2 linked regions of the Homo sapiens genome follow. The protein of the gene in region 2 purifies or fractionates together with the protein of the main gene of each other region. This does not show direct contact. Each region holds a gene or a part of one and is shown on either strand. Other genes may lie near its edges.

Evidence for each region. Proteins that work in one complex are often made in the same cells at the same time.
Region 1: the proteins of SCG3 (region 2) and CTH purify together in Homo sapiens (affinity purification with mass spectrometry; 2 studies listed by BioGRID and IntAct, with this or other methods). This does not show direct contact.

The regions. Positions count from the first base shown.
Region 1 is NC_000001.11:70,406,510-70,414,278, reverse strand, and holds the start of CTH (cystathionine gamma-lyase), read right to left. Parts: upstream 3,012-7,769; 5' UTR 2,864-3,011; coding exon 2,696-2,863; intron 1-2,695. UniProt on the Homo sapiens protein: Catalyzes the last step in the trans-sulfuration pathway from L-methionine to L-cysteine in a pyridoxal-5'-phosphate (PLP)-dependent manner, which consists on cleaving the L,L-cystathionine molecule into L-cysteine, ammonia and 2-oxobutanoate.
Region 2 is NC_000015.10:51,712,495-51,719,515, forward strand, and holds part of SCG3 (secretogranin-3 isoform 1 precursor), read left to right. Parts: intron 1-838; coding exon 839-919; intron 920-6,913; coding exon 6,914-7,021. UniProt on the Homo sapiens protein: Member of the granin protein family that regulates the biogenesis of secretory granules. Acts as a sorting receptor for intragranular proteins including chromogranin A/CHGA. May also play a role in angiogenesis.

The DNA.
Region 1 (7,769 bases), on a different chromosome or scaffold from region 2:
GCCTCCGAAAGTGCTGGGATTACAGGCGTGAGCCACCGCGCCCAACCTGAGCAGACATATTTTATAGGGCTCCAGGATATCCTTACCCCTCCCCACCATCACCTTCTTACCATGACCTGCAGCTGTACCCTGCAGATTAAAAAAAAAAAAGTTTGGATTCACGTGGCTTCTGCCACAGAAAGGTACCTCCCGTTTCTCATTCAGCTCTTCAAATTCCCTTTAGTGGTCTTAGCTGATTTTTAAAAAGGGCCGGGCGCGGTGGCTCATGCCTGTAATCCCAGCACTTTCAGAGGTGAATCACCTGAGGTCAGGATTTCAAGACCAGCCTGGCCAACATGGTGAAACCCCGTCTCTACTAAAAATAAATAAATTAGCTGGGCATGGTGGCGGGCAGCTGTAATCTCAGCTACTCGGGAAGCTGAGGTAGGAGAATTACTTGAACCCAGGAGGTGGAGGATGCAGTGGGCCAAGATCGCACCACTGCACTCCAGCCTGGGCAAGAGAGCAAGACTCTGTCTCAAAAAAAAAAAAAAAAAAAAGATATTAAGCAGAGTTTTTGTGGATTTAACCATCCCTGCTGGCTTCCTGGAAACATTTAATTATTAATATCACACCTGAATGGTAAACTTTTGCACTAAGTTCCAAAGCTTGGGCAGCTACACTTTCATTAAACCCTACACAAGAAACGAACTGCATGTTTGAAAGAGAGGCTGTGAGCCGGGCGCCGTGGCTCACACCTGTAATCCCAGCACTTTGGGAGGCCAAGGCGGGTGAATCACGAGGTCAGGAGTTCAAGAGCAGCCTGGCCAACATGGTGAAACCCCGTCTCTACTAAAAAAAATAAAAAATGAGTCAGGCGCAGTGGCAGGCGCCTGTAATCCCAGCTACTTAGGAGGCTGAGGCCGGAGAATCGCTTGAACCCGGGAGGCGGAGGTTGCAGTGAGCCGAGATCGCACCACTGCACTCCAGCCTGGGTGACAGAGTAAGACTCTCTCTGAAAAATAAAAAAAAAAAAAAAAGAAAGAAAGAAAGAGAGGCTGTGTACATATTTTGATTCTAAAATACAGTAAAGAGTATTCTAAACCAGTTGTAGAAATGGCCTTAGAACTGTATCTCACAAAACAAGGGACTGTCTGTAAGGATTTTCCTCAACTTATATAACACACTGAAGTGGTTTCCAAAGCATAATCAAGGCTTTGGACTTACAGACTTTAACTAATTCTTACAAATCTCAGCAACTTTTAAATTCTCTAAGATCCATCAAGTATGCCACCAAAAGGGGGAAAAAAGCTATGTGATTAACAAAGAGGGCTCCTTCGTAGGCTTTACAGATCATTCATGTATGACTCTGTGTCAGTTCCTTTTCTATAAAAAGTACATAATACCTGTCCTGCCTTCTGACCTGGTTGTTGTGAGGATCAAATGGAAATAGTGTAAATGTGAACATCATGAAAAAACAAATTACCATCGAGTAATTATTATGTACTATACAGCCTTAAATACATCTCAACAACTTATGTGGTAGATACTATTATTATCCCCATTTATACAGGATCAGTCAGAGGTTTTGATAGGTTAACTAACTTGCCCAAGGTCCCCCAGCTCAGAAGAAGTGGTGTCAGAATGCAAACCTAGCCTTTGACTATAAGATTTGTGTTCTCTTTTTCTGTTGTTGTTTGAGTTGGAGTTTCACTCTTGTCACCCAGGCTGGAGCACAATGGTGAGATCTTGGCTCACTGCAACCTCTGCCTCCTGGGTTCAAGCGATTCTCCTGCCTCAGCTTCCCGAGTAGCTGAGATTACCCGCCACCATGCCCAGCTAATTTATTTATTTTTAGTAGAGATGGGGTTTCACCATGTTGGCCAGGCTGGGCTCGAACTCCTGTCCTCAGGTGATCCACCCGCCTCAGCCTCCCAAAGTGCTGGGATTACAGGCGTAAGCCACTGCACCCGGTCATGAGTTGTGTTCTTAATCACTAAGCCACAGTGCTTAAATGACGCAATAGGCTAAATTGTTACTAGCATTATTAGAGATAGCATAGTGTAGCTGAGTGCCTAGGAGTTGGTTCCTAAAGCAACCTCAAGTTTCTAAAGTTTGAATTCCATCTCCAATACTTACTAGTCTAAGGCTAGTTACTTAACTCCCTAAATCTCAGCTTCTTTATTGGGAAAAAATGAGAATTCGGTTCAGACTAGGGTTGTTGTTAGGATTAGATGAGACAATACATGTAATACACATGATATATACGAGCACGTATTTGGCATATAGTAGGTACTCAATAACTATTCATACAGCTACTGGAAACAATCTTAATTCTAGTCAAGTTATCAGACCCTTAATATTTTTTAAGCTGACTCCGTACTACATCTTTAAAATTTATGCTGCTAAAGGTAACTCAAAAAAGTTATGACCTTCGATTTTTAATTGCAAATTTGTCAAAATCACCTGAATTTCAGGCCAAATCTAAATGGCAAGCTGGACAAACGGCTCCTTCCAGTCCTGCTTATCAAAAGAAATACGATCACTGGACCATCCGATACAAAGCTGTGCTGCAAGAATTACAGTGTAGAAACATCTTTCGGTTGCCTTCCTAATTTATAAGTCATATTATAAATTACTTACATGCCTTTCAAATTCATAAGCCGTATCTCTTTTACCGCCCAACTGTGGACAGCCCCAGACAGACCCAGCTCACCGAGTGCTGGCCAGGCGCCCCTTGCTTGAACGTGGTGGACAGTGAGATGGGGGGCACTACAGCCCTGGAGGTCCATTGCTCTGGATCCTGGCCCACATGGATCGCCTGCGTGGCGAAATGTTGGAAGTGTGGCAGGAAACCTTGTGAGGAGGCGTCTTTTTCCTGCATGCTGAACCGCGAAAGAAGAAGAGAGGAAAAGAACACCGAAGATATAACCAGTCGAAGCCGGGTGTCCGGGGTTGGGAGAGACAGAAGGATCAGGCGAGAAGGAGCTAAAGCACGCAGGTAGAGCCGACGGCGAGCGCACTAAAGCGGCACACAGCGATTGTTGGGGTGGATTTTATTAGCGGGTCTGCAGTCTCACGATCACAGTGGGGCGGGACCAGCGCGGCCCATTGAGCGCAGGCCCGACGCGTCTCCCGCTCCTTATTGGCTGACAGCAGAGGCGTTGCCTGAAACGTCACCGCGACCGCCCCACCCAGTGCACAAAGCGGAGTGAAGCTGGAGTCCCTGGGTCCAAGTGGTGTTAGTCCCTGCGGGCGAAATTCCTGAGTACCCGTCCTGAGGAGGCTGCCATGCTGGCTCCTGAGAGCCACCCGGGCGTCTCTGTGACCTCAGGCCGGAGGTTCGCCCGAGACGTGGCGGAAAGCTGGCTTAGTGTTGAAACCGGGTAACTGTAAACAGACCACATAAATAGCCTTCTTTTACTGTGGTAGTTACCTCTGACCACCATCCTTTGCCCTGAGGGCGGTGCTAAAAGACGTAAGCCACAACGTGGAGGGTGGTTAAGAAAACAGTTGCCCAAGCCGCCCAGTTTGCAGCTTGGATTCTCATCAGTCACAGCTTGCGTTTTAGGTACACTGAACTCTGTAATGACCCAGTGCTTACGATGACGAAACGATGACTAGAAGTGAAGGTTAAATTGTTCGTAAGACATAACGAAGCTACTGTAGTGAGGACGTCTATGCACAACTCTGGCAGCTTCCTAAAAGTTAGTCAATCTTGAGCTTTTTCAAGCATCATTATCTTCTTTTAAAGTACAGAGAGAAACTCCCCCTAATGAGAAAGATAATGTGGCTTTGAAATACTTACTGGAGCCTAACATCCTTACACAAAATGCTTTTGCTTTTACACAACAGCAACATCCCTGCAGGAAAAAGGATTGTTTACCACTCACCTGCGCCCAGAGCCCTACTCTCAGAAGAATCACTGCTTTAAAACAAAAATCTCCCTGTTCCCTAAGCAATACAGACTTGACCTACTTACTATTGTGGCTGTTTTCTAGCACCAGGAAATTTGGGGATATTTCTGTTGTTGCAAAATATTCGCTAAAGATCTAAAACTTTATTAAACAAATTAAGAACAAGGAGAATAAGGAATAAACAGCTCTTAAAATTTACAGTTTGAAAGAAAGATATGAAGAGAAAGAATGAGGCAATTTGCTTTTCAAATTAGCTTTAGGGACATTTAACCCATTAAGCACTAGAGGAGTGGTGCTTGAGGGCCTACAAGCTTTTAGAATCCTACCAAACTTTGTATGGCTGGGGGAAAAAATGGATAGACTTCAAAACACTAATGTATATTAATACATATTTAATTAATATTTTTCTTTTAAAAATATAACATCAACTGCAACTCACCTCAATATTTATGTATAACTATAGGTGGGTATTTTTGTGTAATATGATATGGCATTTAGGGGCCAAAAGGGTCTAAAACAGTTCCAATTAGTTTTACCTCCTAATATTTGCTGACAAACCCTGAGTTGCATAAATACAGACATTTTATTTAGTGTACTGTAATAAAGAATCATTCAGAAGACAGCACTAGGCTGGGTGCATTGGCTAACGCCTATTAATCCCAGCACTTTGGGAGGCCGAGGTGGGCGAATCACCTGAAGTCAAGAGTTCGAGACCAGCCTGGCCAGCAGGGTGAAACCCCATCTCTACAAAAAACACAAAACTTAGCTGGGCGTAGTGGTGCACACCTGTAATCCCAGCTCCTTGGGAGCCTGAGACAGGAGAATCGCTTGAACCCAGGAGGCGGAGGTTGCAGTGAGCCGAGATCATGTCACTGCACTACAGCCTGGGCCACAGAGTGAGACTCCATCTCAAAAAAAAAAAAAAAAAAGATAGCACCCAATACAAATGCTATAAATCAGGCCTTTTTTACTCTCTTAAACTGAGAAAACTTTATTGGATGCAGCTTAATATGTATCAAGGATTTAAAATATCCCCTTTCTATGACTCAGCAATTTCTTTTGTAGAAAATTTTACTTGCAGGAATTTATCCTTTAGATATATTCTTAATATGTGTACAGAGATGAGCAAGGATGCTTTTTAAACCTACGTTACTATTTTTAATAGCAAAAGAGTGAAAAATGGCTTAATTATTCATTCTTAAAAGACTGGTTAACTGGTTATGATACTACTCTGTGATGGCTACAGTATGGCCAAGAAGCAGGAAGAGATTGAGATGTGCTGGTATGTCAGAGTCTCGCTCTGTTACCCAGGCTGGAGTGCAGTGGTGCCATTTCGAATCACTGCAACCTCTGCCTCCAGGTTTCAAGAGATTCTTCTGCCTCAGCCTCCCAAGTAGCTGGGACTACAGATGCAGCCACCATGTCTGGCTAATTTTTGTATTTTTAGTAGAGATGGGTTTCACCATGTTGGCCAGGCTGGCCTCGAACTCCTTGCCTCAAGTGATCCACCAGCCTTGGCCTCCCAAAGTGCTGGTATTACAGGCATGAGCCACCACACCTGGCCTATTGATCTCTAATATCTAAGACAGCAAAGCAAAGTAACGTATACATCATGCTTCCACTTTTTCAAAAGAATATATACTATGTTGCATTATTTTCAGACAGATATTTATGATTTCATATGTATAAAAATCCTTCTGGTCATAGAGACTATGGATCTGCAGTGGAAAGGTGATTTTCTTTACATTTTATTCTCTTTTGTGTTCAAGTTTTATATCATGGGCACATATTACCTTTTCAACAATAATAATACTACCAAAAACCCTAATTTAAACATTTTAGAAAGACAACTGTATTTAGAAAAAAAGCTTTTTAAATGATTAAATGATAGCCACTTTAAATCCAATAAATGGTATATAGTTTGAGGTGTGTGCTAATTTTTCATATAAATTATGTTGCATACAACAAAATATCATAACACTTACAGAAGAATTATTAATTCTTCTTGGGAAGGAGATTCAGCAAAAGCAGATATTTTAGAGGAAATGGGAAACTTCTCATTTTTTATATTTCTTTACTGTTTGATCCTTTTATAAAACACAGAGTACATTATTTTATAATAAGTACTTCTTAAACACTATGAAAATAGCACTGTACTTCTTGTGTTTATGCACAAAGACCTCTACTATTCTCATTAAAGGCAGGCTATGAATAAAGATACCGTGACTGAATATCAAAACAGTGCAATCGGGACTTGGGAGGGATGTTCATAAAATATATTATTATTATTATCAAGCATAAACATACGCAATTATTAGATCTGTTTTGTTTTACCTCAAAAGAAAACAATTTGTTCATCCTTGGGCTTTTGTCAATGAAATAATGAGAATTATGAAGGGAATTTGGGGATCAGGGGAAAGAAGATATTACAATATAAGATCTAAATTTGGTAGACTTGTAGATTACTACAATGGGCCAAAGCCTGTCAGATAGCACTTTTTTTTTTTTTTTTTTGAGACAAGGTCTCAGTCTTCCCCAGGCTGGAGTGCAGTGGTGCCATCTTGGCTCTCATTGAAACCTCTGCCTCCCAGGTTCAAGTGATCCTCCCACCTCAGCCCCACAAGTAGCTGAGACTACAGGCATGCGCCACCATGCCAGGCTAATTTTTTGTGGGTTTTTTTTGTAGAGATGAAGTTTTACCATCTTGCCCAGGCTGGTCTTGAACTCCTGAGCTCAAGCGATCTACCTGCCTTGGCCTCCCAAAGTGCTAGGATTACAGGCATGAGCCACTGCACCAAGCCAGATAGCACTTATGACACCTACCTTCACTTCCTGGTGGAAACAATTTTTTAAAATAGTAACAAAAAGATATTATGCAATCATATCAATTATGTTTTGATATGGCATAATTGAAAATTATATGTCTTGAGAATAAAAAGGTCTAGATATTGTTGATGGAATTATTAAAGTTAATATCAAGAGACACTGGAGAGCAAATTTCTAGCACAATTGCTTTCTTTTAGTGATAGATACAAAGAAGATAAGCGACATACTCATATTAATATAGCGAGTATCTAGGCTGAGAATTGAGTACAGCTTCAGACATTTAAGATGAAGAAGTAATCCCAAAATCATTTGGATGCATTCCACAATGATGTAAAAGGAGTCAAATATGACTGAAAAACATAATATAAATAACAACTCAGACATAGCAGTTAAGCACCTGAAGTTTGGAGTCAGAATGCTTGGGTTTGAAGCTCACCTCTGGAACCTGCTGTCTCTGTGACCTTGAGGGAGCAATTGACTTAATCTCTGTAAGTCTCACTTTCTTCTGTAAAATGGGTAAAATAATACTTGGCAGTTCTCAAAAATAGGTTCTTAAAAGCATCTGGCAGGCCAGGAAAGGGGTATAAGGCAAGTAGAATAAATGGGAAGCACTTAGGTCAGAGAGCTACTTTTGATATTTTTCTATCAAAACTGATATTTGCAGTACCTTTGAAGAGGAATACTATGCAGAGGTCGTGTGACCCAATACAGAAAGTAAGCAATATCTTTTGCAATGTTCATAAGTGGCACAGAGATTTAAAAAAAAAAAGATAGGTAATTTGCACTATCCAGGCATGCAGATGTCTTATTCAACTAGTAATGCAGCAATTGAAAAGCTCTTGACTTTCGCTTATAACTTTATATCAGAGAGAAAACATTTTAGGGGGAGCAATTCTCCATGTTGCGGGACTGTTTGGCTAATTGCAGGGCATTCATCTTCCCTGGTGGCTAGTTGCACAACCCCACATATTTCCAATCACAAAACAACAACTCCAGTTGAGAACAATGATAAAGGAACTAACGGGGTTGCTCTGAATTTAAGCTTAC
Region 2 (7,021 bases):
TATCCTGCAGGGAATGCAGGTAGCGGAAGCTAAGCAGATCAGAGTCCAAATGCCAGCTGTTATTTCCTGTGTAGCCTTAGCCTACTCACTTCGCCTCTCTGAGCCCCAGATTCCTCATCTCTCAGTGGATGGTAATATCCGCTTGCAGACATCAGTACAGGTAAAGGGCATCACAGAGTAGGTGCATGAGTGATGCCTGGTATTCTCATGCCACACTTGAGGCCCATCGAACAGTGTTTACATCCTGGGGAGTTTTATTAGAGCCAGTTCTAAGGTTTGCCATCCAAACCTTGAAGTGAGGCACTGGTCGCCTCTTTGTCTAAGTTTTTGCCCGCCCCCTGCCAGAATTGGGCAGAAGACTTAGAGCTGCTTACACAAAGCCACACATTTGGACTTTTAACTGAAGTGATGGAATCTTTAAGTATCTGCCACTCTCATTCAAGTCCTTGGCTTGATGATGCTCCTCAGTTTGGAAGAACCATCCCTAACCAGAAATGAACTAATCTAAGGACCCATCTATCTAGTAAACTGAATCAAAACTCTTCTCTGCCAGGACATCAAGGTGGATTTATTTGTGTGTGGGAATCATGCCCCTTGACACTTACCAACTTGATTCTTCCTCCTGGAACCTCATCCGCACCTGCTCTCCTTGACCTAAACCCCTCAACACACAAACACACATAGACACATACAAATATGTACATTACCTAGTTAGGGAAACAACCTTGCAAATGCTGCATAAGTCTAATATTTGTGGTTCTGAACATACGTGTGGTCTTTAAAATGAGATGTAGTGATATTTCCTGAGTGTTTGATATAGTTCTCTTACCTCTTCCAGGAAAAACAGAAGCCTATTTGGAAGCCATCAGAAAAAATATTGAATGGTTGAAGAAACATGACAAAAAGGGAAATAAAGAAGGTAGGACCAAGTGTGGTTGTACATTGCAAACTTCACCCATTTGTCAGGGGCTCTTGTTATATAAAAATTCCCACAGTCAAATTGACTGTGCTAAAGTCTCCCCGCAGAGCCCAAAAAAGACTGAAGTCACCTGTCAGATACAGAGGGGAACAGAACCTCCATTTCTCTTATTATTCAAATTAGCCTTTCAAGCAAAGGCGTTTTCTTTTCTTTTACGTTTTATTAGGAAAAATGTCAAGCAAACGTAGAACGAATAGCATAATGGATCCCTGTGTCTCCAGCACCCATCTTCAATAATTATCAAATGTTGCCAGTCTTGTTTTATCTAGCCCCCCTTTCTTGGAGTATTTTAAACAAAGGCATTTTCTGAGCACAAATTTTGTGCACCCTGCAGTCACAAAAGCAGTCACTCGCTTACATAAAGCAAAACACAGAACCAGGCCCTGTTCTAAGTGCCAGAGATGTCCCGCCCAAGGAATGCACAGCGTCATTAGAGCTATGGTTGGCCCTGCTCAGTGATGTCATGGATAGGTGTGTTACTGCCAAGGAGGTGAGAAGATGGGATGGATCTTCATACTAGGACAGAGACAGTTGAGAGAAGGGCCACAAGTCTTCTCTGGAAAGTTAAGGATGAATCTGCCGAGTGAGGAGAGATGGAGGCAGAGCGAACACTAGGTACCAAGACATAAAGGGACAAAACAGAGGGGTGGTTCTGGGAACTGGAGCCATTCATGTCCCCAGGAACAGTGGATGTTTGTGGAGAAGAGCAGCATATAGGGTTGGGAAGTGGGCAGTAGCCATGCCAGGAAGACATTTATGTACTCTTCAGAGAAGGTTGGTTTTAGCCAAGGGAGCCTAAATTGGGGCCTAATTAGGTTAAGAGCTGAGAAATCCATCTGGCAGCAGTGTGACTACAGATTGAAAAAATAAGACCCCAGAAGGCAGCAGAGAGATAAGGAGGTAAGACAGAGAGATCTGGAGCAGAAATATGGGGCTGTAAACCAGGGGACAACAGAGGAGATAAAAAGGAAGGGAGGAACTCAAGAGCCATGTGGAGAAGGAGGATTCTGACACGATTCCCAGGTATCTGGCCAGAGCAGTTGCAAAGTGATGCCTTCCTAAGAAACAAGTAATGCTTCTCAAACTTTAAAGTGCATCCAAATCACCTGGGGAACTTCTTAAATATCCCACTGCCCAGGCTGCACTGCAGCACCACTAAATCAGAAATTCTGGGGACACAGCTCTGGCATCAGTATTTTTTCAACTCCCCAGGTTATTCCAGCGTGCAGCCAAGTTTGCAAACCGCTGAGATACAGCACAGAGGGAGAAAGAGGTATTTTCAGCACCCTGGTAGCTTAGGTCTTCTAAGTTGAGTGATGATGGCAATAATTATCGATGTTCATGCATACTTTATTTGGTTCAAAATGATTTGAATTTCCAGGCTGTCAGTTACATTAAAATCTACATGAACCATATTTCATCGAATCTGTCATTGATTAAAAATGCACCATTGTTTTATGTGCCATTAAATTACAACATGCCATCAATGACTGCAAAGACTTTAAAATTAAAATGTTCATCTTAGAATCACTGTAGTACACTGTGTGCCAAAATACATCCCAAAGCCATGATAAATTGTATGGTACATCAATTTGGAGTATTTGTTACTGTTTTCACTGATTAGCATATGAATCAGACTCCTGGTCATAATCAACAACATCTTGCAATTCAATGTTCCCATTCCAGAAATGACCAACCTGGTGAAGCATAGAACTCTGGTGCTTGCATATGGAAGGCTCTGTTAGCAAACTGGCATTGGGTTCGATGCTCCCTTTTGTCTCTGGGAAATATGCAGTATGCCCTCTTGAAGACAGAAACAGAGCTCTTTCTCCACTGCTCTCATATGCGCTCGGCTTGACTTGGGGTCATCTTCTCAAAGCCTGTGGGGGATCTGGGTCCTAGGGTCATGCAGTGGCTGCAGCTGTATAAGCAGGGAGAATTACTATTAGTTCTGACCTTTCTTAACCATTGTTGCCACCCTTTGTTTGGTAAGGGACTGGGTGACCTGAATCCCCTTCCCAAACCCAGGAAAGGGAGGTCCATGTGATGTGATAGTGAGGATAATGAGAAAATCTTATGTAGCCTTAAAAAAATATGCTTTTAAAAAGCGAATCACAGCCCTTCTCTCCTTTGAGCCTTACAACCTTAAAACTTCTTTTAAGGTTAGCAAGATGGCTACTGGCTTATGTCTCCTAACCCCCAGCTAGGGCAGAGTTGGCATTAGACCAAAGGGCCTTTCCTTTGCACCATGCTGGTTTTCCCACTGCACACAGTAATAGCCGTGTCATAAAGATAACAATTTTTCCTTTTCAAAAGAAAGCAAAATATTTGCCTGTTTGTCCATTCAAATCACTGGACCTCTTCACATCTGTCTTTGGGAGTCTGCACTTTTTTTTTTTTTTGAGACAGAGTCTCGCTCTGTCGCCCAGGCTGGAGTGCAGTGGCACGGTCTCCGCTCACTGCGAGCTCCGCCTCCAGGGTTCACGCCATTCTCCTGCTTCGGCCTCCCAAGTAGTTGGGACTACAGGCACCCGCCACCATGCCTGGCTAATTTTTCTTATTTTTAGTTGACATGGGGTTTCACCGTGTTAGCCTGGATGGCCTCAATCTCGTGACCTCCTGATCCGCCTGCCTCGGCCTCCCAAAGTGTTGGGATTACAGGTGTGAGCCACCGCGCCCAGCAAGGCAGTGGTTTTCAAACTTTGATGCACATTAAAATCACTTAGCGGGAGTCTGCCTTTTATTCCATTAAAGATGTTGACACTGCAGCCTATTCTGCAGAGGCAGTATTAATGAACCAGGAATAAACAAGAAGTGCCCTTTGTGCCTTAGGGGTCAGGAATAAAGGAATCATCGCCTTAGGTGCGGTGCCTGCAAAATGTATGTTCAGCTTCGTTCTCTACTTCGTGCCTGAGAGAATGGGAAAAGTGAAAAACAAAAATAAAAATGAGCATTTATTGAACATTTGCTTTGTACCTGTTAGATGTTTTATAGTCAGTACTACAAGGCTATGGAATGGTCAATCAATGACCAGCATTCAGAACCTGACTCTACCACTACCTGAGCAAGTAACTTACCCCCTTTTCTGTTTCTTCATCTCTGAAATGAGGATACTAATGCTTACCCATGAGTGTGGAAAAAGCAACAATGTGCTTTCTCCTGTTCTCTCACTCAACACAACAATCAACACAGAAGACTTCTGTGACCAAATGCGTGGGGGTTTCTCCCCACCACCAAGCAAGCAATCAATTCTGCAGCCGACACTAGCTGGTTGTCCGCTGATTCAATTCAATTCCAACACTATCTACTTAGAGTCAGCCTCAGACACCACAGGGTGAGGGCGCAGTCCCAAAAGAGTGCCCCTTCCTTTGCACCAGTTGCATGTCCAGGCCTCTGGAACAGCTGGCTGACTGGCTTCAAGTTTCGGTTTCCACAGCCTCCTCTTAGGGTTCAGTTAATTTGCTAGAGTGGGCCTGGTATGGTAGCTCACACCTGTAATCCCAGCACTTTGGGAGGCCAAGGTGGGAGGATCACTTGAGGCCAGGAGTTTGAGACCAGCCTGGTCAACATAGCGAGACCCCATCTCCACAAAAAATTTAAAAATTAGCCAGGTGGGCCAGGCACAGTGGTTCACACCTGTAATCCCAGCACTTTGGGAGGCCGAGGTGGGTGGATCATGAGGTCAGGAGTTCGAGACCATCCTGGCCAATATGGTGAACCTCCATCTCTACTAAAAATACAAAAATTAGCTGGGCGTGGTGGCACGTGCCTGTAGTCCCAGCTGCTCAGGAGGCTGAGGCAGAAGAATGGCGTGAACCCGGGAGGTGGAGCTTGCAGTGAGCTGAGATCACGCCACTGCACTCCAGCCTGGGCAACGGTGCAAGACTCCGTCTCAAAAAAAAAAAAAAAATTAGCCAGGTGTGGTGGTGTGCGCTTGTAGTCCCAAGTTACTCAGGAGGCTGAAGCAGGAGGATCACTTGAGCCCAGAAGTCCAAGGCTACAGTGAGCCATGATCATACGACTGCATCCAGCCTGGGTAAAACAGTGAGACCCTGTCAAAAAAAAAGAAAAAAAGAAAAAAAAAGGATTGCTAGAATTCAGAGAAATGCATTTACTGGTTTATTAAAAGGATATTTTAAAGGATACAAATAAACAACTAGATGAAGAGATACATAGGGTGAAGTCTGGAACAGTCTGAAGTGCAGGAGCTTCCATCCTTGTGGAGCTGGGGTGCAACACCCTTCCAGCATGTGAATCAGTTTTTGTTCACCTTCCTGTCAGCCTCCACGTGTTCACCTATCTGGAAGCTCCTGAACCCTGTCCTCTTGGGCCTTTCATGGAGACTTCATTGGATAGGCATGATTGACAACCATGTAGGAATGTGATTGGACAAAAAGGACATGGTCTAAACCCAGTAAGGCCTATCTCTGCAGATTCTTCTTGGCCTCTCTGTGCAACATTCCTTCCTCCAGGGTACAGGGTAGGACCCTCTATGGATCAAGGGTGTTATGACCCACAATCAGATTAGAGTCCTGCCTTGGCTGGGTGAAAGGAGGGCAGGTCAGAGAGAAAGATTCTGCTTCCTGAGGCCTTCTTCTGAGGCCCAAAGTGCCCTAACATTATGACAAAAGGCTGAAACAAGGGATATGGGAGTTATAAGCCAGGAATCATGGACGAAAACCTATATAGATAGTTAGATGATGGATGGATGGATAGATAGATAGATAGACAGACAGACAGACAGACAGACAGACAGACAGACAGATGTCATAGGGTATAACCTCGTGGGGTTTTGTGGGGGGCAATTAAGGTGATGGCTGTAAAGTGTCCAGTGCTGGGATTTCCCTTTCAATCCTCATGGCTGTGCCCTAACAGGGAGCAGATGTCCTGCTTGCCAGAGAGGATATAAGCCCTGTCTAAGCCTCACTCACTTAGTGATTGTAGAGAGGTCCTTCATGGTTCGTTTTCCTTTCTCATAAGAGCTTAAGGATACCCAAGTGACCCAGGCTCAGATTACATTCAGGCTCGCTAAGGGTGGCTGCTAAACCACCCTTTTATACCCACTCTCTCCTTTCTCTTCTCCTCACCAACTAACAGAAAGCAGCGTTCTGTCTAGTCATTTACAGCTGTTATTGCCTAATACTTAAAGGATCAAGGGAAAATGGGGGTTTTTAAAAGGCTTCAGAAAGGTGTCATAGGCAGCCTCCTTACCTGGAAATCTTTATTTTTGGTGGGTGTTTTGACAATGTATATAGATTTTGTTTGTTTGTTTGTTTAAGGAGGACAGAGGAACCAAAAAGAGTTTACAGTTTGGCTTTTTGCTCCTTGCATACAATTCAAACAGCATGAAATAAAGTAACTCTTAATTTGAAAAAAAAAAGTGGGTTGTCACATCAACATGGACTTAAACCTAGTATAAGTCAGGAAGTCAGGAAGTCAGAACACCCGGTTCTGATCATAACTTTTACTACCTATGTGACCTTGAACAAGGCACTTAACCCCGAAGTGTGGTTCCTAGACCAACAGCATCAGTATCACCTGACAGCCGTTTAAAATGCATAACCTGGATCCTCACCCCAGACCTACTGAATATGAATCTGCCACTTCCCAATAGCCCCAGGTGTTTGGTATAAACATTAAAATTTGCAAAGCCCTGGTCATGAGCCTATTTCCTGTTTGGTCAAATGGGGATGGTATGACCCACCTGAACATCTCACAGGGTTGTGATGAAGCACAGATGAGATAATACATGTAAATATTATTTTATACTGCAAAGTACTACACAAATGCCAAGAATTAAAATGCCTCCCGATGTGAAAGATGGGGAATGGTAATTGTGTTATTGTATAAAATGCTTCTCAGTTAATGGTAATCACTGTAATGGGATTGGCCTTTCCTGATCTTTGCTCATTATGCTCTAATAATATTTTCCAGATTATGACCTTTCAAAGATGAGAGACTTCATCAATAAACAAGCTGATGCTTATGTGGAGAAAGGCATCCTTGACAAGGAAGAAGCCGAGGCCATCAAGCGCATTTATA